3 linked regions of the Homo sapiens genome follow. The protein of the gene in region 2 purifies or fractionates together with the protein of the main gene of each other region. This does not show direct contact. Each region holds a gene or a part of one and is shown on either strand. Other genes may lie near its edges.

What was found.
Region 1: the proteins of RAB17 (region 2) and MOCS1 purify together in Homo sapiens (affinity purification with mass spectrometry; 3 studies listed by BioGRID and IntAct, with this or other methods). This does not show direct contact.
Region 3: the proteins of RAB17 (region 2) and CHM purify together in Homo sapiens (affinity purification with mass spectrometry; 3 studies listed by BioGRID and IntAct, with this or other methods). This does not show direct contact.

Annotation. Positions count from the first base shown.
Region 1 is NC_000006.12:39,931,442-39,939,356, reverse strand, and holds the start of MOCS1 (molybdenum cofactor biosynthesis protein 1), read left to right. Parts: upstream 1-4,894; 5' UTR 4,895-4,939; coding exon 4,940-5,062; intron 5,063-5,133; exon of another isoform or gene 5,134-5,331; intron 5,332-7,915. UniProt on the Homo sapiens protein: Isoform MOCS1A and isoform MOCS1B probably form a complex that catalyzes the conversion of 5'-GTP to cyclic pyranopterin monophosphate (cPMP).
Region 2 is NC_000002.12:237,587,712-237,595,194, reverse strand, and holds the start of RAB17 (ras-related protein Rab-17), read left to right. Parts: upstream 1-4,460; 5' UTR 4,461-4,728; intron 4,729-7,483. UniProt on the Homo sapiens protein: The small GTPases Rab are key regulators of intracellular membrane trafficking, from the formation of transport vesicles to their fusion with membranes.
Region 3 is NC_000023.11:86,037,538-86,044,574, reverse strand, and holds part of CHM (rab proteins geranylgeranyltransferase component A 1), read left to right. Parts: intron 1-7,037. UniProt on the Homo sapiens protein: Substrate-binding subunit of the Rab geranylgeranyltransferase (GGTase) complex.

The DNA.
Region 1 (7,915 bases), on a different chromosome or scaffold from region 2:
AGAGCAAGGGGAAGTTTGTTCCTGGAGTAAGGTTATTTTACTGTTCGCCAGCATGTGCGTTCCCTCTCTGAGAGAGGACTAAGCTGCTCTTCCCTTTGAAATTAGATACAGCCATGTGACTTGCTTAAAGCAGAGTGATGTGTGACACTTCCAGGAAGAAGCTGTAAGAGCCAGTTTGCTGTTTGCCACACTCTTTTTCCCTCTTGGTAACCACCAATGTTCTATGTGGATATTCGCTGCCCTATCAGGCCGGGACCCAGAGTGAGGGCAACACTGACCAGAAACAAAGTTCACAGCTAACTCTTGGATATAGTTTGGATGTTTGTCCTCTACAGATCTCATGTTGAAATTTGATCCCCAGTGTTGGAGGGTGGTGCCTGGTGGGAGGTGTTTGGGCTAAGGGAACAAATCCCTCAGGAATAGGTTGGTGTTATCCCCTAGGTGACAAGTGAGTTTTTACTGCATTAGCTTATGCAAGAGCTCGTTGTTTAATGTGACTTCCCTCCTCTCCCCATGTCATGCCTGCTTCCCTCTGCCTTCTACCATAATTGGAAGCTTCCTGAAGCCCTCACCAGAAACAGACGCTGGTACCATGCTTCTTATACACCCACAGAACCATAAGCCAAATGAACCTATTTTCTTTATAAATTACCTAGTCTCCATTATTCCTTTACAGCAATGTAAAGCAGACAAATACACCTTTCCTGGACATGTAGCCCAAATGAGAGAATAAACACTTGTGATTTTCAGCCTTTGAGATATTAGAGTTATTTGTTACAACAGTACAATCTAGCCCAGGCTGACTGACACAGCTGTCTTAGTCTGTTTTGTACTTCTATAGAAGGAATACCTGGGGCTGGGCAATTGATAAGAGGTTTATTTATCTCATTACAAGAAGCATGACATTAGCATCTGCTCAGCCTCTGGTGAAAGCTTTTGTGCTATGTCAAGATATGGTGGAGAAGATCAAAGGGGAAGCTAGCATCAGTACAAAAGGGCCAAACTGGACAAGTGTCCTGGCTTTATAACAACACACTTTCATGGGAACTAATCCCTTCCCCTGGGAACTTGCTCACTAGCATGAGAACAGCACCAAGCCATTCATGAGGGATCTACCCCCATGACCCACACCTTCCACCACTGCCACACTGGGGATCAAATTTCAACATGAGATTTGGTGGAGACAGAAAAACCATATCCAAATCATAACAGCCATCTTACAGGCAAATCAAGGATATGGAATCTGCCATTTAATGTACTTATTGTGAGCCTATTGTGCATTAAATACCATGCTAGGTGGTATGATTACAGATGATTTAGATTTGGCAACAGCCCTCAGAGGGTTTATAGTGCAGAAGGCATATAAATAAACAATGTCACTCTGTTGTAATTGCCACTATTAACAAAGGGTACTATGGAAGGGAGGAGTCCACGAATCCTGTATCAGGGAACCAGCAAGAAACGGCATACTCAGCTAAAAGTTTTGAAGGGATATTTTAATGAAGTTTTAATAAAAAAGTAACTGCTGCTCTTTACCATTAAGAGAGACTATTTTGGAGGTGTGGGCAAGGTTAAGGTGGGCGGGCTGAGGGGGGCAACAGGAATGCTGAGGCATCCAAGGACAATCAGCAGAAGAAAGCCAATCCCACCCCAGTCTGAAGTGAAGAAACAAATGTGAGAAATAGTGTTACTGGACTAAGTGGGAGGTGGAATCATGGCGGAGAGGCCAGATGACACCAACTACAGCTGTAGCCAGAGCAAAACAGGGGAGATCAGGAAGAATAGATAATCCAGCTTTTCTCTCCTCCTGCTCTCTGATCTCCTGCCATGCTCCCTATTGGCAAGATCCACCTGGAAACCAGAGGTCAGGGCACCTGGATGATGCCATCAATGCAGTTGGTAGAAGTCAATCTCCTGGTCCTCAGAGCAGGGTGGAGAAGGATCTGGAGGGGCAAATAAAGACTATCCTGAACAAGGTCCTCAAAAGAGAAATGATAGGAATAATTGATACAATATTTTTTGAAACTTTATTGCTTCATTAAAATGCTTAAAATTGCAAGGAGAGTCCACAGTTACTGATAGAATGGGGATAGGTTTGAATGAATATTCAGATGACTGGACACTTGAGGTTCCTATTAGAAGAGACAATGGACATATGGCTGGAAATCACATCCTGGATCTTTTTTTGAGGGGGAGTTGGGAGATGAAAGTCAAGTGCGGAGAAAATGGGTAGGGAATAAGGAGAAACATATCTTCCTGTCAGCTGGAGAACAGATCACTAGAGATAAATTGTAAGGTGGGAATTGCATCATATTTTTCTGACCTAGTCTCAAAAGCCATGCAGTATCACTTTCACACTGTTACAAACAAGTTACAAACTGACCCAGATGCAAAGGAAGGAAAGTTAATTCCACCCCTTCTGGAGAAAGCAAAATTCTATCATAGGGCTGAATAATACAGTAGCCAGTAGCCACACATGGCTGTTTACACTTCAATTAATGACAATTTAATAAAATTAGAAATTCAATTCTCAGTCACACTAGCCACATTTCATGTGTTCAATAGCTATGTCAGGACATGGAATATCTCCATTATTGCAGAAGTTTCTATTGGACAACACAGCTCTAGAACATACGAGACAGGAAATATTGTTGCAGCCATCTTGCAAATACAGTCTGCCACCAGGACCTAGGCAAACCAAATTGTATTAGAGAAGATAGTGCAGTGGCTCACAAGACATTGTGTACAAGGGTTGGCAATAACTGCTGCTGTTTATCACTAAGAGAGTACTTGGGTTAAAGTCTCAAAGAGAGGATGTATATGCCTAGGGGGCTAAAACTAGGGCCAATAGGAGGGTATCACAAAAGAGAGATTTCTAGGACAGTATGTTCCATGAGGCTCTTTGAGCATGTGACAAAAAGCCACCATTCCCCAGGAAAAAAAAATACAGTATTATGCATTCAAGTTCAGGGGTCTACAGAACCCTCCAAATCAATCCATGGACTTGTCACATCAGAGCCCTACTGCAGGCTGTGAGCCCTTGAAAGTATTTCCTTATTCCCAGCCATTAGCAGAGGATTCGGCCCTGATGACACTTAATCACCATATGTTGACAGAAAGGGGCACTTTTTTGCTGAATACAAGTAAGAACTTTAATAGGTGGGGAAACATTTAAGTGGACCAGACAACATCAGGAAGCCAGAAAGTTTCCCAGCACTACAGGAGTCCAAGTAGATGTATGATAATATGGAGAGGATTTCAGCCTTCAAACAGAACTGAGTAAGCCTTAGGTCTTGCCTTGGAGACCCAAGTTCTATAAAAGATGACAGTAAAGCCCAAGTGAAGGGATGATCACATACAACTTGTATGAAGAGGGTGGAATCTAGAGAGGCTCCAAGGAGCTGGTGACATTCTTGGATCAAGTTCATATGTCAGATGGCTTCTTCCCTGAGGTTGAGTCCTCTCTAGAAGGCTCTTCAAGCCTCATACATACAAAAAAAAAAAAAGTTTTTATCCTTCTCTCCCCCATACCCAGTTTTCCTGATAAATCCAGACATATCTAAACTTAGCAGTGGACAGAGCTTGAACAGTCCTCAGTTGGTCTTCAGGCCCCTTGCAAACAGACCTCTGGCATACTTGTCTCATCAGTTTCAAACACACCCCAGATACACTTTCATCCCCTACAATATATTTTCTGAATTTTGAGTATCATTGTGAGAAATTCACATTGAATCTAAGGCTAAAATCATCTCAGCTTTTCTGACAGTCCCACTGCACTTGTAAAAGTCAGTTATATTCAGTTATTTTTTCCTCTCCCACTATTCGGTCAATTCTTCAAGATCAGGAGCTATATTCCCACTTCCTAAGCATGCACTTGGCAGCTGTATGTTCCAGCCGGTGTTTTATTCTTGCAATTCCACAGGGACAGGGTTTTGGATACAACAGGCTGGTTTGAGCATAATTATTCTTAGTACATAAGCTCATTATTGTGTGTGTTATCCAAAATCTTAAAGGACTACAGCACTCTGCTTTTTATAGAGAGGAAGAGGCACACCCCACCATTCCTAACACATACTGAATCTTGACTGAATGACTGTAGAAAGCAGATTGCCCTGGGTTTGAAACCCACTATCAGCTGTGTGACTTCGAGAAAATTACCTGGTCTCTCTAAGCCTCAATGTCCTCAGTTGCAAAAAGGACATTCTATTCATACCAGGATTGTTTTAAATAACATTTAGCATGGTGCTTGGTGTATAAGAAGCATTTCAAAAATGTTGTCCACTCATTCTGTGACTTCTCATATACTCTTGCCTTCTCCACGAAAAAAAAAAAAAAAAAAAAGATTGTTAATATCCTTTTGGGGCACAACTGGAGAAGTGTATCTTGAAAGACCTAACTGACCGTTTTACAACCACAATCTGCACTATGGTGCACTGAGTGATGTGAGTCATGCAAGTGTAGGCTAAATCTTTTTATTTAGAATGTTGATATTTCACGGACTTCTGAAAATTTATTACGATTTTTTGAAATATTACATTAAAAAATTACTTACTTTGATAACCGCAGTTTACCTGGCACCCTCTTAAATTTTGCATCCAAGGCAGTGCCTCATTCGTTTGGCCCTTGTCCTGTCCTGCCTACTGTCACACCACGACCTAAATCTGAGACTAGAGCAGCCAGAAAAACTGGAAGGAAAAGAACCCCGTTCCTTACCTGAGTTTACCCTTCTGCCCTAGAGCGCTACCCCGGCCCAGGAAAGTGGGCACAGGGAGCGTACTACAGCTCCCACAAGGCCACGCGGGACTGCGTCCTCGCCTATTGGCTGCGCGGGTCCCGCCCTCCCCCTGCCCCTCCCCGCCCTTGCTGGGATGACCCCGGGGGCGAGTGCCCGGCCAGTGTGCTCCCGAAGCGGGCTGCGGTTCCGCTCGTATCAGGCTTCATGGCGGCGCGGCCACTGTCCCGGATGCTGCGGCGGCTTCTGAGGTCCAGCGCCCGGAGCTGCAGCTCAGGGGCTCCGGTGACCCAGCCCTGCCCCGGGGAGTCCGCGCGAGCTGCCTCGGAGGTGAGCCCACCCCGCCTGCGTCCACAGCTTCCCGGGGCAGGAGTGGCCCCGGCACACTGCCCTTTTCCCCCAGTAGCTCCCGGCCTATCTGCTTGACCGCTTCTGGGAGGGACCCGTTGGCACTCCTCAGTGGAGCGATGTTCTCCAGATGGACCGCCCGGTCTCACCCGCTAGCCCAGCGGGAGAGGTTCCTGGGAGTCCCGCTTCAGAACCTCCCTGCCCCCCAGCCACGCCACCCCTTCTAGCCCTGAGCTTGGCCAGAAATTCGGGTAAGCAGAGGACTGGGACTTTGGGTCCAGTGAGGTGTCTTAGTACCTTTCAGCCTTGCCTTGCACCCACCCTCTTTCTTAAACATTTTCCCTCCCTATCCCAAGAGCTGAGAGATCAGGTGTCCCTGTGACACCTGCTTCATAGTGCGACTGACTAAACATGTCACCTCGGTGTCACCAACGATGAGTTGTTACTGTAGTCCCAGGGCTCTGTAACCCATCCTTTGCTGACTCTCCTTGTCTTTTTTATTAACCTTGGGAGGGTTCAGCCTTATCCTAGAGCAGAACAGGGCAGGACGTGGCTTCTTCCAGGTGAGAAATTAATTCCTCTGTCTTTAGGGTTTTGGGTAAGATCCCTCAGTCCTTGCCAGCACCCCTCAGAGTGTTTCAAGTCATTAAAAGTTTTAGGTTTTGGTTGTTCTTCTGCTCAGGTGGTTAGGGAATAATTTGGGGGGAAAAGTACCTCTTTTCATTTAGTGAAACCTCTTTTCGGTACCTATCTAGGCGTTTTTTTCCCCGTCTCCCAGAACTAGGCTTCCTGTCCTGGGATTCATAAGATCACTGCTCCCTCCTCCCCTATATTGCTCAATGACTTCCGCCAAATTTGCTTTCCCCAAATCTAAGCCCCTCTGGGATCCTCAGATAAGCAGGCCCATGGTTGGGAAGTGAAGACTTTTTAGTATCCTCAAACTCTGAACATCATTGAGGAAGAGATAGGAAAGCAAAGATGGCTGAGAGATCTTTAAAGAATTCAAGAAAAGGGACTTTTCTTCTCCAGCCCCCCACCCCCTAGTTTATTTTGTACTGGTCTTTCATGAGAGAACCTGTGTTGAGTGACTCACATGTGGAAGCATTTAGTCCTCACTAAGCCATGTGAGGTGAGTAGAGTTTGTATGTTCAGATGAGGGGGCTAATCTAAGTTAACTTTCCTCCAGTCGCAGAGCTGTAGAGGGCAGGAACTCAACTCTAATGCTTTTCCGTCCTCCCTGTGTGGAGGCCAGGGAGAGAGCCTGCTCCTATCCATCCCTTTACACTGTGAAGGGAGGGGTAATGTGGCAGAAAGGAGAACATAGACTCTGGGGCAGCCCCATCCCTTATTAGGGATTCACCAAGTCCCCTTACCTCTCAGTGTCTGTTTTCTCATCTGCAAAGTAAGAATAAAAGTGTCTACTTCATAGGATGTCACAGGGATTAAAAGAGTTAACGTATGTTAACGTATATACTTAGAACAAAGCTTAGCCCATGTAAGTGCTGTGTTATGTAAATGTTGGTGGTAATTACTATTATCCATGCTGCCACTGGCACATGCTCTGTCCTGTGAGTCCCCTCCCATCTGGACTTGTTGGATAGCTATTCTGTCAACTCACATTGAATCCTGGACATCTCATTAGGATTATCTTCAGCAGACTGGGAGTTCCTGAGGGCTGGGTGCACCTCCGCCTTTCTATCCCCACAAGCGCTTAACGCAGGGTTGTGCAGGCAGTGGATTCAGCCAATAATTGTAGCTGCTTGAAACTTAACTAGTGAGGAGTCACGTGGCATAGTAGACCACACTGGACAGGGAGTCCCATGTTTTCACCCGCCAGTTTCGCCTCCAATTTCACCTGGCTCCTGGGGCTGTCACTTCCCTTTGCTTCATGTTTATAAAATGAGAGGACTGGGCCAGCCCATCATAAGATGGGGGAGGGCACAGAAACTTGTCTTGAGGAGACTCTAAGGGGAGGTGAGTCTGGAAATGGATATGTTCTGCTCATCTCCAGAGCTTGCCAGTTGGGGTGGGGACACCTTGAACCCCTTCTTGCAGGGTCTGTCTCCCCCAACACGCCCACACAGGGCTCTGGTAGTCTGGTTTGGGATGGGAGGTGCTTGGAGAGCTAGGATGGAAAGCCACTGGGCATTGTTTGTGTGGCAGGATGAGGGTGTGAGGGAGAGAAGTGAGGTTAAGTGGGAGCTGGCTGTGAGGATTGCGGAAAGGGGGCTGTGGGCTGAGTCCAAGAACAGGTCGAGTAGCTTCTAGCTATGGAAAGGAGTAGTGTGTGGGTCAATGGGGAGGTGGGTGGGGGAGACACAGCAACCTGCCAGCCTGCATCTGGGGTGGCCCAGACAATCTTTGTAGGGTTCAGCCTAGCCTGGGAGTGCTGTATCCCTCTTTCTCCCTCTGAGGCTCCATGCAGGCTTTGTTGGGCAACAATGAAGCCTGCTGCCTGTGGCGGGGGAAGCAGGGAGGGTGAGTCTAGGCAAGGCAAAGGCACCCATCTGTTCAGGGGGCCAGAAAAAACAAATGCTGGCTAGGGGTTAGGCTGCAAGGAAGTGGGTGTGGGTGAAGGTAGAAGGAGTACAGCAGGCACTGGTGAGGGAGAATGAGGGGGAGGAGGGAAAGAGGGCTTTCAGGAGGTCATCTTGACTTCCAATCTGCCCAGCTCCTCAAAATCCATGTTTCAGCGAAATGTGACTGTCCTCCTCAGAAGCTATAGGTGTAAAGACCTCACACTTAGGGTGGGAATGAGGGGAGGGGGAAGGAGAATCGAGCTAGGCTAGGCTCTTTGTTGGGTCCTCTCATTTAAAAGAGATTAATTTTAAGAGA
Region 2 (7,483 bases):
TGGAATTTTCCACTGAGATAAGCAAGGATAAAGGTTTGGAGGCAAGGCAGACACCACAATTCCTGCTTATCTCAAAGGCCTTAGGAGATAAGGGCATTCTGGAGAAGCTGACCTCAGGTAATTATCACAGCTGAGCTGAGTCTTCACAGCAGCTCCGCAAGAAAACCCCAAGGAGGAGGGGGCGCGCTTCCCCACAAATCCCCTGAGGACTTCGGCCCATTGTTCCCTGGCCAGAGGGGGGTCACCTGGTCACATCTGCAAGAAAGAAGATACGGAGAGGCACTAACAACCTGAACCACAGTGGGGAATCTCCTCATAAGGAACAAGGGGGGCACGGATCTGGGGCAGGCCGTTAGCAATGCCTGTTGCAAGCCTTGAGAGCTGCTTCAACATCTCTGAAATGTTTATGCAGCAGTAGGCCTGGCTCTCCACGCAACCCCAGGGCAGTAAAGAGTGGAAAGTTACAAAGGACTGACTTGGCTAGAAAGGAACCCACATGGGATAAACTCTCAGAGGAAATCCCATCACTGTCAATATTTGAGCAGAACCCGAGACATCAGGTGGCAGGAGAGTTGCAGAGATTCTTCAGCCCCTGGGCGGGCACTCAGGCCACATCCTCCCCAGGGGGCCCTTCCTGCTCCACAATGATATAATTTTACATGTTTTGGAAGGAGAATGTGTGCATGCCTGCCTACGTGGCCTGTGTAAGTGGCATTGCGAATATTCTCCCTGTCAATGGTAACACAGAAAAGTTGATAAAATGGCCAGAGACAAACTTAAAAATTGGTATGTGTTAAAATAATATTAATTCTGGTCCTGTAAGTAAATTGCTTATGTTCCGTTTTGCCTCATTTCCACTACAAGCAATGATGATTGTGCACGATACCACATCTATGTGGCATTATGGATACTGTCTGGGCGGTGAGTCCTGACCCGCCTTCCACGAGAGGTTTGTGTCTGAGCTTGCCATCCCATGTCCCCATGGGAATGCACCTTCTGATTTACACGAGCGCACCACAGGCTTCCTGCTCACGCTGGATGGCCCTTAGTGCATAGAGTGATCCGTCACAGAGGCTGGAAGCGGAGGGAGGTTTAGAACCATCTGGCTCAGCCCCCTTACTTTGGAGGCGAGTAAATTGGTGTTGGGAGGAGCTGACTGGTTCCCGAGGGAGGATCTGGCAGGTTGCTCCCAGATGACCTCTGTGCAGGAGGGGAAGCTGTGAGCCCCCAGACCCTCTTAAGTATCTGAGTTCTGGCCTTTCACTGTACCCTTGGGCCTTCATGAGGAGGGTGTCAGGTTGCTTGAGATCAGCATGAGCACCAGGCCTTGCCACACTGGCCAAGCAGGAGGCGGGCTTCGGCACTGGCTCCCCTGCCACCCGCCCGCGTGTGCCAGTGGGCTGTGAAGTCACCTGGGCTGGGGGGGCCTCCCTTGTGTGAGCTTTGGTTCAGGCACTGTGGACAACGGACTCTAGGATGGGCCCCAAGATTCCAAGCCCCTGGTGGACATGTCTGTCCCCTTGAGTGTGTGCAGGGCTGGGACTGTGATGGTGTCACTCCTGAGATCAGGTTATATTACATGGTAAAGGTGAAGGGATTTTGCAGATGTAATTAGGGTCCCTTGTCCATTGACTGTGAGTTGAGCAAAAGGGAGATTGTGCTGGGGGTGTCTGCCCCAATCAGGTGGGCCCTTTAAAAGAGGATCTAGAAGTCAGAGAGCATCTCTCGCTGGCCTTGAGAAAGCAAGCTGCCCTGTGTGAAGGGGCCTTGAAGAGCTGACAGCAGCTGCCCACTGACGCCAGCAGGAATGGGGACCTCAGCCTACTGAGGGAACTGAATTCTGCCAACAAACATGTGGGCTCAGAAGAGGACCCTGAACTCAGAAGGAGACCCCAGCCTGGCCAGTGTCTTGACTGCAGCCTGTGGGACCCTGAGCAGCGAGGCTGAGCCCCGACTCCGGGCCGCAGGAGCTGTGAGGCCATAACTGCGTGTTACTGTAAGCCGCCGAGTCAGTGGGTATGTGTTACACATCCAGAGATAACTACACAGGCATCGACCCTGTCCACCCGGGGATGCTAGAGGGGCTGTGCTGGTTTTACTCCAGGCCATGGTGAGAGCCACTGTGAACACAGGGCTCTCTCCTCTGAGCTGCAGAAGCTCTGTGCCCTGTCCCCTGCCACAAGTCACAGACTTTCTTCATGTGTTTTACCTCATGTTAATGAAGGAGATCTTCTCCAGGGGCTTGATCTAGTGGGAAACAGAGGAGGGGGGGATTTTAAATTTCAGTCCGTCCAACCCTGTAGATCTGCTGTCCTACAGTAACGTAAAGGATCACCAGGTAAAACGCTGCTTCTCCCGGACGCCGCCACCTTGCCCCTCTCTCTCACATGGACACTGGTGCCTGGGTTGGGAGTATGGCCGGTGACTTCGTGGCAGTGTGGGGAGGGGATGTGTGTCCTTACATCTGTGAGAGGTCCTCGCTTCCCCGTGGTCTCTGCTGAAAATGTCTGCCTGGACCGCCAGCCTCTGAGGCACCTTGGCCCTGCCTGCACCAGCTCCTGAGCCTGCCTGTCTTGGTGTCTCCTTCTGCTGTCCCGTGCCTGGCCCTCAGGGCCTCTCTGCACCGTCACCGGTCACTTCTGAGATCTTACGCATGTGCATTGCTCAAAGGGTGGCTGGGGTGCCACGTGGCACAGCTCTGTGCTGTTTGGGGACTGGCTTGGGGTCTTTGAGGGGTTTTCGCCTTCTAGGGAGTCGGGACCCTCTCTAACATGAGCGATGGGCTGTGACATAATCACAGTTGAGCTTAGCTGATTCCAAAACTCCCTTCTCCACACAAGGCCTGGCTTTCAAACCTGTTGTCTGACTGTAGGTACAAACCTCCCATTTTGGGTGTAAAAAGCTGGTTCTTAACCATTTTGTCTTTTTAATTTTTTTTTTTTTTTTTTTTTACTTTTTGAGATAGTTTCACTCTGTTGCCCAGGCTGGCATGCAGTGGCATGATCTCAGCTCACTGCAACCTCTGCCTCCCAGGTTCAAGCAATTCTCCTGCCTCAGCTAGGATTATAGGTGCATGCCACCACACCTGGCTAATTTTTTTTTTTGTATTTTTCATAGAGATGAGGTTTCTCCATGTTGGTCAGGCTGGTCTCGAACTCCTGACCTCAAGTGATCCGCCCAGCTCGCCTTCCAAAGTGCTGGGATTCCAGGCTCGAGCCACCGCGCTGGCCTCTTTTTGCATTCTTGCTATAAAATTGGTATTTGTATCTTCCTCCCATTCTGCGCTCCCCCAACCCTGCAGGAAGGTGGATTCTTCAAGGGAACTGGAGAGAAGAGAAGCACATTCATGTATTTCCACATTCAGCCTCCATCTCACGAGTTACACCATTCCCAGCACGTCACCACCCCCAGACCTTTGGTTACCAGCCTGGGGGCAGAGGATAAGGACGTCATTCAAAAATAGAGAGATTCTCAAGCCTCCAGAGTGCGGGGGCCCAGCCGAGCATGCTGGCGGCTTCCAGGGAGGTGGCCACGCCCCAGGGGAAGTGGTTGCATGGAGGAAGAATCTCAGAGGAGGCTTGGACGTGGTAGAGCAACGCTAGTCCTGTGTTAGGACTGGCTAGTCCGTCCTGCAGGGATGAGGGGCAGAGCCTCAGCAGAAGTCCAGGCCAGTGTCCCCCCTCCAGCATAAGAGCCCCCCACTCCCACAGGGCGGAGGAACCACTGTGGTGGCGGAGCTTATTTCCCAGCAGCCCCGCGGGATGAGACCCAAACGAGAAGTTAGGGTGAGTTTGGAGGACATAAAGTGAGCTGGCTTCCCGTATACTGGCTGTGTGGAGTAATGTTCACGGCAACAGATTTCCATCTCCTCAGCCTCAGGCCCAACCCTGCTACCCCAGCCATACTCAGAGGCTCTGGAAATCTTACCTGGAGGAGACTCTTCTGTTACCACCAAGCCAGGAAGTTTCATGGCTTGGGAAGACCAAGAGGAAGTCCACCTCCCCCTCTCCTGCACCTGGAGTCTCCCATGTGCACGGAGGCCACGCCCCCACCCCGCCCTCAGGTGGCATCAGCCCAGGATCTGACCCTGGACTGGCTCACACTCAGTTGCCTCTGGCCAGTGCAGGGCTCAGCCAGGGATGGCTTCTAGCTGACAGTGGGAGGAATTAATTCATCTGACCGGAATATTCTTTTCTCTTCTGGGCTGTTGGTTTTTCAAGTGCAACAAAGATTCCATACAGCTCCAAGGAAGGAGCCAAGAAAAACATTCTGTGCCAAAGTGAGATCCTGGAAGTGAAACCCCGGAATAAAGCTGAAAAACGGGCTCCAGTTGGGTGCCAGGAAATGCAGGACTGGAATGTGACTTGACTTCCGGCAGCGCGCAGGTGCTCCCGGGTCACCTGCTTTGAGGTCCAGCCTCCTGCCCTGCCTCAGGTGACCACATGACCACTGTGGACTTTGCCCTGAAACCTTCTGGGAGGAGAAGAGGCCTGACCTTGGCGCTGGGGTCCAGTGGGCATTGCTCTGGTCCGAGGCTGCTGCTCTTGACCTCTGCTCTGCGGCTGTTTTCCATTGGAGTAGAGGCTCCTCCTGTCCTGTCCTGCCTGTGGAGGGAAGCAAACCTTCCCCTGGACCAGAGAGAGGAGAAAGCGGAGACAGGTAGCAACGCTGTGGACTGGTGATGACAGGCTCTTCAGCTCCCTGCAAGTGACCGGGCCTGGGGAACAGGTGAGTCATTGTTTAAACCTCTGTGCCCTTTGTGGAGTGTCTGCCTGTGTGTGTGTGTGTCTCTGCTTCTCTGTGTGTGAGTCTCTGTGTGTCTGTGTGTGTGCTCACGTGTTTGTACCCATGTCTGTATTTGTTTGTGTCTGTGCATGTGCCCATGTGTGTATAATCAAAGGACAAAGCTGGGGCGGAGACTTCCTAGTTCAGATTTCTGATGGCTCACTAAGTCGGATTCCCAGAAGGAGATTCTTATTTGCATTTTTCTTCGGGAAAGTTCCGGTTTTAAGGTCTTGAAAAAAAAAAACACAAAAAACTTCTGGTAATGAGAAGAACTCTTAAAGAAATCCATTTCAAATGACATCAACATTCCCAATTTAATACCCAGTGATATCTAGGAAGCTTGTCAGGTTTTCTTGTAAACTCCTTTTTACAATCTACATTGTGTTTTCTGTATCAGATGGCTGTATTCTGAATGCAATGTACAGGTGTACCTCTCGTAATCTCAATATTCTTCACAGGCCCCAGGCAAGGGTGACACAGGATCACAGTTGCCGATAGACTCATCAATCAGACCCTTCCCTGGAATGGCCCCTTCCCCGCAAAAAAGACTAATGTGGGATTTGCTCTCCGTTTTTTTTCCCTTTAGTGGAAGGGAGGTGCAAGAGATTAAAAAGCCCCAAGTTAAGATTACTAGAGAAGCGCCAGTCTTGAATATGGTGTTCCTGAAAACATCTTTGTCTTCAACAACCTAATAACATCTTTCACTACTAATAACCCCATCTTGATTAAATTCTGGAGGTGGGGGTCAGGTGCCACACTTTTAATTTTCTCTTTGGACAGAAGGCTCCAACCTCTCATTATTGAAAGCTTACAACACTCAATCACACAAAAAGTTATATAAGAAAATGTTTACTGCAGTCTTATTACAGAGAAAAAATTAAAACTAAGTAAAAATCCAGTATTAGGAAAATGGTTCAGCAAGTTGAGATAGTTGTAGAAATGTTATATGTCCATTAAACATGATTTTGAAGCAATGTGTGAGACTGCCTTTGGTATTAAGTATTTCTTACCCATCGGATAATAATTTTATGTTAAAACTATGGGTTTTGGTTTGTTTTTAGGAGTCATAGAAAAAAACTAGAAGTAGGCAAAAATACCATTTGTGGTTGTATTACGGGGGTGGAGTTATGGGTAGCTGCTTCTTTTATATTGACACTTGTATGTTTATAGTAAAATAACCTTTTTTTTTGGAGACAGATTCTCGCTCTGTCACCCAGGCTGGAGTGCAATGGTGGGATTTTGGCTCGCTGAAACCTCTGCCTCCTGGGTTCAAGCGATTTTCCTGCCTCAGCCTCCCGAGTAGCTGGGATTACAAGCGTGTGCCACCACACCCAGCTAATTTTTGTATTTTTAGTAGAGATGGGGTTTCACCGTGTTGGACAGGCTGGTCTCCAACTCCTGACCTCAAGTGATCCACCTGCCTCGTCTTCTCAAAGTGCCTTTACAGGCATGAGCCACTGCGCCCAGCCCAAAAATAAAATAACTTCATTAAACAAAGAGACATATCATTGTCAAAGGAATGAGACGCCGGCATCCCAGTGGTCATGGTGCATTCCTTCAGAGTCCACCTGTTTCAGTTAATTCAGACATGTTTCGGGCTACAGATTTTTTGACTTAGGAAAGGTTTTATTAACCTATGCAAATAAATAGCAAAGAGAACTTGAAGGGGTATCTCTGTTTATTTTAAATTATTTTTTATTTCAATAGATTTTAGGGGAACAGGTGGTATTTGGTTACAGGGATATGTTCTTTAGTGATTTCTGAGATTTTGTTGCACCCCATACCAGAGCGGTGTACACTGTAGCCATTGAGTAGTCTTTTTTCCCTCACCCCGCCCCCGCTACCCTTTCCCCTTCCACCAAAGGGTGGAAAGTCTGGGCCGTGCCTTGACCTCTGAGAGCCTGTCCCCAGCTGACTTGAGCGGATCATCTGCTGGACTAAGTTCCCACCCCAGGCACTCTCACTGTGCCTCAGATGCTGTCTTAGTCTGTTTGTGCTGCTTTAACAGAATTCCTGGGACAGAAATGTATAAAGAACAAAGATTTGTTTCTTATGGTTCTGGAGGCTGGGAAGTCCAAGGCCAAGGGGTCTACATCTGTTGAGGGCCTTCTTGCTGTGTCATCCCACAGTGGAAGGTGAAAGGGCAAGAGAACACGCAGGCTTGTGGATGTGCAAGACGCAGCAGTGTTAATCTGTGCTGGGCGTGGATTAACGAGGGCAGAGTCCTCATGACCCAACCCCCTTCCATTAGGCCCCACCTCCTAGCATGGTTGCACTGGGGACTAAGTTTCCAAATCTGCTTTTTGGAAGATCCATGCAAACCATAGCTGGCCCCAAGAAATCATCCTCAATCCAGGTGGATATTTCAAAGCACAGGTGCTGTGTTATGTGCTCTTCATGCTTGGCCTCATTCATTCATTTCTTAGGAATTAGTACTTACTATGTGCTAGACACTGTTCCCAGCTCCAAGGAAAACAGAATTCTAGCAGTGATTCCTAGTCTTGGCTGCATACTGAGATCACCTGGAGAGCTTTTCTTTTTCTTTTTCTTTCTTTTTCTTTTCTTTTTTTTTTTTTTAAGAAACACAGATGGAAAACTTAATGTTATGTTTTTTATCCGTCTCTGAAGCCAGCATCATACTTGATGGTGAAACTTGAGTATTTCCAGCTAAGATGGGGTTCCAGGCATGTTTGGGATA
Region 3 (7,037 bases), on a different chromosome or scaffold from region 2:
ATCTGCAGCACAGCAGAGCCAAGAACTCAACAGAAGAGCAGTCAAGATGGAAGTTATAAGATCTATATGATAATATTGACATGCTTCATACATAGGGGAATCCCTGAGATCATCACTTAGAACATATTCATCCTCATTTTAAAAATAATTCTAGCAAGCTCAGCATATTAGAACCACCCCCTTAGAAGATACAAGGAATGTTATCAACTTCTGCAAAGACTATGTTTGGTGGGGTTGCTATTAGACATACAAATGACAGTTTGTATAGGAAAGGGAAGAGAAAAACACCTAAAATGCAAACTTACATCAAACATCACAAAGGCCTGATAACATTTAGTGTAGTGACAAATACTCATTTTTCAGGTCATTCAACCCACATTTACTGAGAACCTAGTCCCTTCCCTTGTGAAGTTTACTGTATTGCCTATTCTCAGGAACGTTCTGGCCTTCCTAACAGTCATATCCCCAAAGCTGTTCTTAAGACAATGTAGGCTTTTCATTGCATCCTTCTTTCTTTTTGAAGACCATGTAGACATTCAGCCTGCATTTTTTCTTTTTAAAAGCACACTGCTCACATCTTTTGGAGTTCTTCCCCTAAGATGGGCTGCAGAGTAGGTTAGCTTAATTTTTCTACTGCATAGGATAAACACATATATTCTTTTGATTTAAGAGTTTTATTGTTAGCCAAGCATGGTGGCACGGGCCTGTAATCCCCATTACTCTATAGGCTAAGGCACAGGCATCCCTTGATCCTGGAAGGCGGAGGTTGCAGTGAGCTTAGATGGCACCACTGCACTCTAGTCAGAGAAACAGAGTGAGACTGTCTCAAAAAAAAAAAAAAGTTTCATTGGCCAGGTGCAGTGGCTCAGGCCTGTAATCCCAGCACTTGGGGAAGCCGAGGCAGGTGGATTGCTTGAGCTCAGGAGTTTGAAACCTCAGCCTCCCAAGTAGCTGAAATGGGTGACACAGCAAAACTGTATTTCTACAAAAAAAATACAAAAATTAATTGGGTATGGTGACACGTGCCTGTAGTCCCAGCTACTTGGAAGGCTGAGGTGGGAGGATTGCCTGAAACTGGGAGTTTGAGGCTGCAGTGAGCTATAGTTGTGTCACTGCACTTCAGCCTGGGCAACAGAGCAAGACCCTATCTCAAAAAAAAAAAAAAGTTTTATTGCTAAAGATTATGGGGAAAGAGAAGGGATAGCAAAGATAAACATGGAAATTATAAGGAGTACTGCCCCTAAATCCTGATTATCTTGCTAGATAGTGTTTAGCACCATACAGTAGTAGATGTGGCAGCATGGTGTATGATAATCACATGACCATCCTATTGTGTGATTTTGGGAAAATTACAGAATTTCTTGTGACATCATTTAGTTCATCTGTAAAGTGAGAAATTTCAATAGATGATCTCCAAGGTAGGGATCTACCAGCCCTAAAATTACCATTGTATATATCTATTTATGACACCATGTCCTTGAGAAAAGGCTAAATTCTGTTCTGTGTAGTCTTTTTAAGAAGGAAAGTCAGTGTTTCATATACTTCAGAAATTTTCCTATAAAAATGGCTGATAGGGTTTAGATATTTGTCCTGCCCAAATCTCATGTTGAAATGTTATCCTCGTTGTCGGAGGTGGGGCCTGATGGGATGTGTTTGGGTCATGGGAGTGGATCCCTCATGGCTTGGTACTCTTCTTGTAATAGTGAATTCGTTCTTGCAGGATCTGGTGGTTTATTTTTTAATTTTTTTTTTGAGACAGGGTCTTGCTCTGTCACCCTAGTTGGAGTGCAGTGGCACAATCATGGCCCACTGCAGCCTTAACCTCCTGGGCCCAAGCAATCCTCCCACCTCAGACTCCTGAGTAGCTGAGATTACAGACATGCATCACCATGCCTGGCTAATTTTTTTTTTTTTATTTTTGTAGAGATGGGGTCTGCCTATGTTGCCCAGGCTGGTTTTGCACTTCTGAACTCAAGCAATCTACCTGCCTTGGTGGCCCAAATTGCTGGGATTACAGATGGGAGCCACTGTGCCTGGTCGACTGGTTGTTTAAAAGTGTGTGGCATCTCCCCACACTTGCTTGCCTTGCCTCTCACCAAGGGAGATGCCTGCTTCCCCTTTGCCTTCTGCTATGACTAAAAGCTCCCTCAGGCCTCCCTAGAAGCCGAGCAGATGCCTGTACCATGCTTGTACAGCCTGCAGAACCCTGAGCCAATTAAACCTCTTTTCTTTATAAATTACCCAGTTTCAGGCATTCCTTTATGGCAACACAGGAACAGCCTAATACAGTGACTGATTAGAAAAGGCATTTTCTTAAAAATGATAGGCTGCTTTTTTCAGAAAAGGTCACTTAAGTAGCCTTTCCTTGATGTTGGGATGTTCCAGTCCCATTCCTTGATGTTGGTGAATTTAAACATTAAGGTAGTTAACCTTGACTGGCAGCTCATTGACTTATGATGATGTTGGAATAGCATCACTTCTGTAAGCCTTGGGGGATAGTAATATTGCAGGAGGAGTTGTGAAAACTGATATTTACCAAATATCTGTTTGTGCCAGCCTTAACACAAGTGATTTCCTATATTTCTAACTTAATCTTCTCCCAGGATGCCTGAATGTGGTTCTCACATCACAGGATGTCCATAGTCCTCCCTGTGTACTTCCAAAATCTTCACATCTATTGTCTACAGTGGATTTTTAAAAATTGTAAGATGCCACCTATTAGTGGATCATGGAGTGAATTCCAGCATTATAAAAATGAGGTAGAATATATCAGAATGCATGTAGTAAGGATGAATGTTGTTTTTTATATATATATGTATATATATATATATATATATATATATATATACACACACACCATATATATAACATATATATATATATACATAAACACACATACACACATATGTTTTTGGGGAGGGCAGGTTCAAAAAATTTAAAGCATAGAGTATATTGATCAGCTGAATGACATAGTGAGTAGGAGTGAAATGGTATTTCAAAAGTCCTTTCTTTGTTGTCTTCTCTTTTGTTCACCAGCTTGCATTATTTATCATTTGTTTTCCTCATAGTTTTTGGAACAGATTTAGTATCGGTCTTATTTGAGGTATAGTATGAAACACTCCGTTGTCAGCGTAAGAGATGCTATAGGAGTGAAAGATAGCCTGCAGATTTTGCTGTTCTGAAAAATGCTTTGCACTTCTTCAGGCATTTATTGATGGAAAAGTATGTTTTTGTTTGCTTCCAATACCTAGAAAAGTAAAGAGTTATCTAACTCTGGAGAAGACTCTCTGGGAGATGCTTACCCTTCTCTGTAAATCATGAATTTGAGCCAATACCTCAGAGAGAGCCACATCTGTTGCCATAATTTCCTCTGCAGCATCATTTTCATCTCCCATGCCTCATGTCATTTTTCTCATTTTCTCCAGTGTTTTCATGATGTTTTGGATAACAGGCTACAGTAATTAAATTCAAATATGGCAGCCCACCATTACATTCTCATGTTTAACATAAAATCCCAATGCACAGAAACAATTATAATTCCATATAATTGACCTGTTAACTCATGCTAAATCATCTGCTATTCAGTCTCAGTGCATTCTTTAACTAAAAAGTTAGTCTGTGCCTGTTCTGTATATAAATATATTTAAAAGTAAAATAGGCTAAAAATCACTGTTGGTGCTCATTGGAAACATTTTGGGGGCGTTTAGTTGTGGCCAGCAAAATAGGGATACATTGAAAGGTTGATGTTTTGTTTTTGCTTTTCTAATAATTTCATTTAAGGTTTGGTGTAAAAAGAGTTGATAATTTATCACAGATACTGCTTTTTTAGAGCATGATTATGAGAGCTAGCATGTTATCATATTGAGGGTGTTTTTGAAAAGAACAGTTTGCAAACAGACAGGAGAAGAGACCAGAGGCAGCTTGGCCAGTATGGTGCTTAAATAAGTGTTTCATCTCATACTGGATTTTATCAGGAGCTGAAGTTGGTAATGTATTCCTTGACTGATTTGGTTTTTATCACATTTTAAAAAGTACTGGTGAAGCAGGATATTTTCCTGACCCCTTCATGGGACTTGTGAAGGGAGCACCCTGTTTACTCAGCCCACCGCTTTCAACTCCTCATAGGAGGGAGCACGTGAGTGAACAAGGCAGGAACTGGAATACATGAGTGCTGGAGTCAGCCTGCCGCTCTTGTGCCAGGAGGAATGAACTCCACTCACTCGGACCTGCTGTGTTTCACCCCTCACAAGAGGGGATGTGCAGTTGAGTGGGTGCAGGAGCCGGGGCGAGTGCTTTTGGGCACTGGCAGGAGTCAACTCTGTGCTGGCCCTGTGGTAGCATCTCCGGGGGTGGTGCCTGCAACCCCTGAAGCTCCAGAGGGAATGTTACAGTGCTCTTTTAGCTCTGCTGTCCGCAGACGGCTTAAGGGTTAACAGCTCAGTGGGCCCTCTGCCTTTTTGTGTTAATCGGCTGCCTTCTACCAGTGAGGGCAAAGGGCAAGTGTGACAGCCTTTTTGTGTCCACACTCATCGTTCCCGAGCTCTTGTCCGGCATCCAGGAGAAATGAGGTCACATGAATGAATTGAAGGATGGTAAATGTAGGGGATCTTATTGCTGATGGAGATGGCTCTTAGTGGGAAGGGGAGCTGCAAAGGGCAGGAAGGTAGTCTTCCCCTGAATGCCAGCTGTCTCTGGCCAGATTCTTCTTCGAAGTTACGCTGTCAAGGTGTCCCTCTGAAGTCGAGCCACTTCTCTCTGATGTCCAGCTGTAGTCTCTAATGTCCAACTGCTTCTCTTCTCTCTGCTGGCTGAGCCTGGGGTTTTTATGTACACAGGATGGGGTGTGGGGTGGGCCGTAAGTGGTTTCGGAAAAGGCAACATTCGCACGGGAAAATGGGGATATAAGTTCTCACTTTGCGTCATGGTTTCAGGCTTGAGGGTGGGGTTTTCTCAGGGACCTGCCCTTTTCTGCCTAGAATTTCCCTGCCTCCTGTCCCTGTCACTCACTAACTTCTACTCTTTCTTTTGAGTATTCTCACCTGTCTTTTTTTTTTTTTTTTTTTTGGTCTAGGCCAGTGTTCTCATTGAGTTATTATGGCTACTAGTTAATGGTGGTTTTAATCATTTTATATTGCTTTGAAATGTTTTGAATCATGTTTCTGTGATCTGACTTTGCACATTTGTTAAACTAGTCTTATTTATGTGGATTTAAAATCATCATGAGAAAATTTACACAAGCTAAAGTATAGAGAAAAAGTTTTACACATGGATATGAGGCATATTAAGAAGATGCTGAGCTGTGAGTTCAAATCCTTATTTTCTACACCTGTGTTACTTTGGTTTAAGCTATGTAAGCAAAATCAATGATAATTAGAAAATTGTTTTTAGTACCTACAACACACTGTCAAACACATGAAAAATATTGTCTAACATTTGTTATATGCCAAGCACGGTGATAAGCCCCTACAATGCATTGTCTCATTTTCACAGTAACCCTGCAGTAGATACTATATCATCTCCATTTTTCAAATGTGAAGCCTGAGGCTCAGCTAAGTTTGATGTAGGTGAAACAGTTAAGACGAAAGTTTTTCTGACTAAGGTTGAGGTATTAGATTAAGTTTGCTAGAATCTTTCAATTGAAAAAATAGCTCATAGTATCAAGATGAGATTATTTTAACCTGGGTTTGTGGTTGGCAGTTGTTTTATTTTGGAGAGTTATCATTGTTGACATTAAAATCCTGATTCCAGCAGTAACCTCATGATGTCAGCTTCTTATTATTGACAGCATCATGACATCTGTGTCAGCTTGCAAACCTTCTTTTGATGAAGGTGAACGGAATGACCTGGTTGTGTTTATCCCTTAAAACTGAAGAGAGAATCAACCACTAAAGCAATGGCCAGAAATGGGATCAGAGATTACAGTTACATTTTAAGAAATGATTTGCTTCAGTAGGAATTCTTCATTGATCCTGTAAACCAAAATAATTTAGATTACCAAATTAATTTAGAAAGTTTATTTTACCAAGGTTAAGGATGCACCTGTGGCACAGCCTCAGGTCCTGATGACGTGCCCCAGGCGGTAGGGGCACAGCTTGATTTTACATGTTTTAGGGAGACATGAAACATTAATCAACGTTTGTAAGATGTATAATTCATTGGTTCCATCAGGAAAGGCCAGACAACTCGAAGTGGGGAGGAGGCTTCTGGGTCATAGTTAGTTAAGAGACAAATGAGGAATAGTCACTTATGCCTTAGTCTGTAGTGAAACAGTAGGGCGGAGGAAGCCATCAGATACGCATTTGTCTCATGGGAACAGAGGAATGACTTTGAGTTCTGCCTGTCCTTTGGTTGTCCACAAGGAATTTCCTTATGGGCAAATTGTGAGGGAGGTATGTAGCTTTTTAAAAATCTTTGTAGTGATCTTATTTAGGAATAGAAAGGGAGAGAGGTTTGCCCAACACAATTCCCAACTTGACTTTTCCTTTTGGTTTAGTGATTTTGGGGAGATTTGTTTTCCTTTCACAATCCCAAGGTACATAATTTCCCACTGAAATACTTGTGCATGTGCTGGGGTTTGCCATTTTGTGTCTTTTTTAGTGTTCTTCCAAATTAAATTTTCAAGATCAAATATGGGACTCATTGTCCTGTTTATGGAGCTTTTTTTCTTTTGGTTGACTATTCTTTTGTTTCCTACAGTCTTCAACAACTGTTAGTGCTTACAATGGATACATCATGCATCTTAATTGATAGGATGGATATGATAATACCTTTTTTGGTCCAAGGTCCCGCTCATTAAAAAAAATAGTTTATAAAGCTGAAAAGTTTTTATTTCTATTTTTTGTAAAATGATTTTCATGATAGGATTTTATATAAAGGGGAAGGGTTTTTTGTATCATTTTTATAACATTTTTGAAATGAATACTTATTCTCTTTCATCATCTATTTTAGACTCACAGTTTTATGAGTAATGCAGTAAAGGTCATGTGGCACATTAGTAAAATATGTTCTGAACACAGAAACTATTCTCCTTATCACAA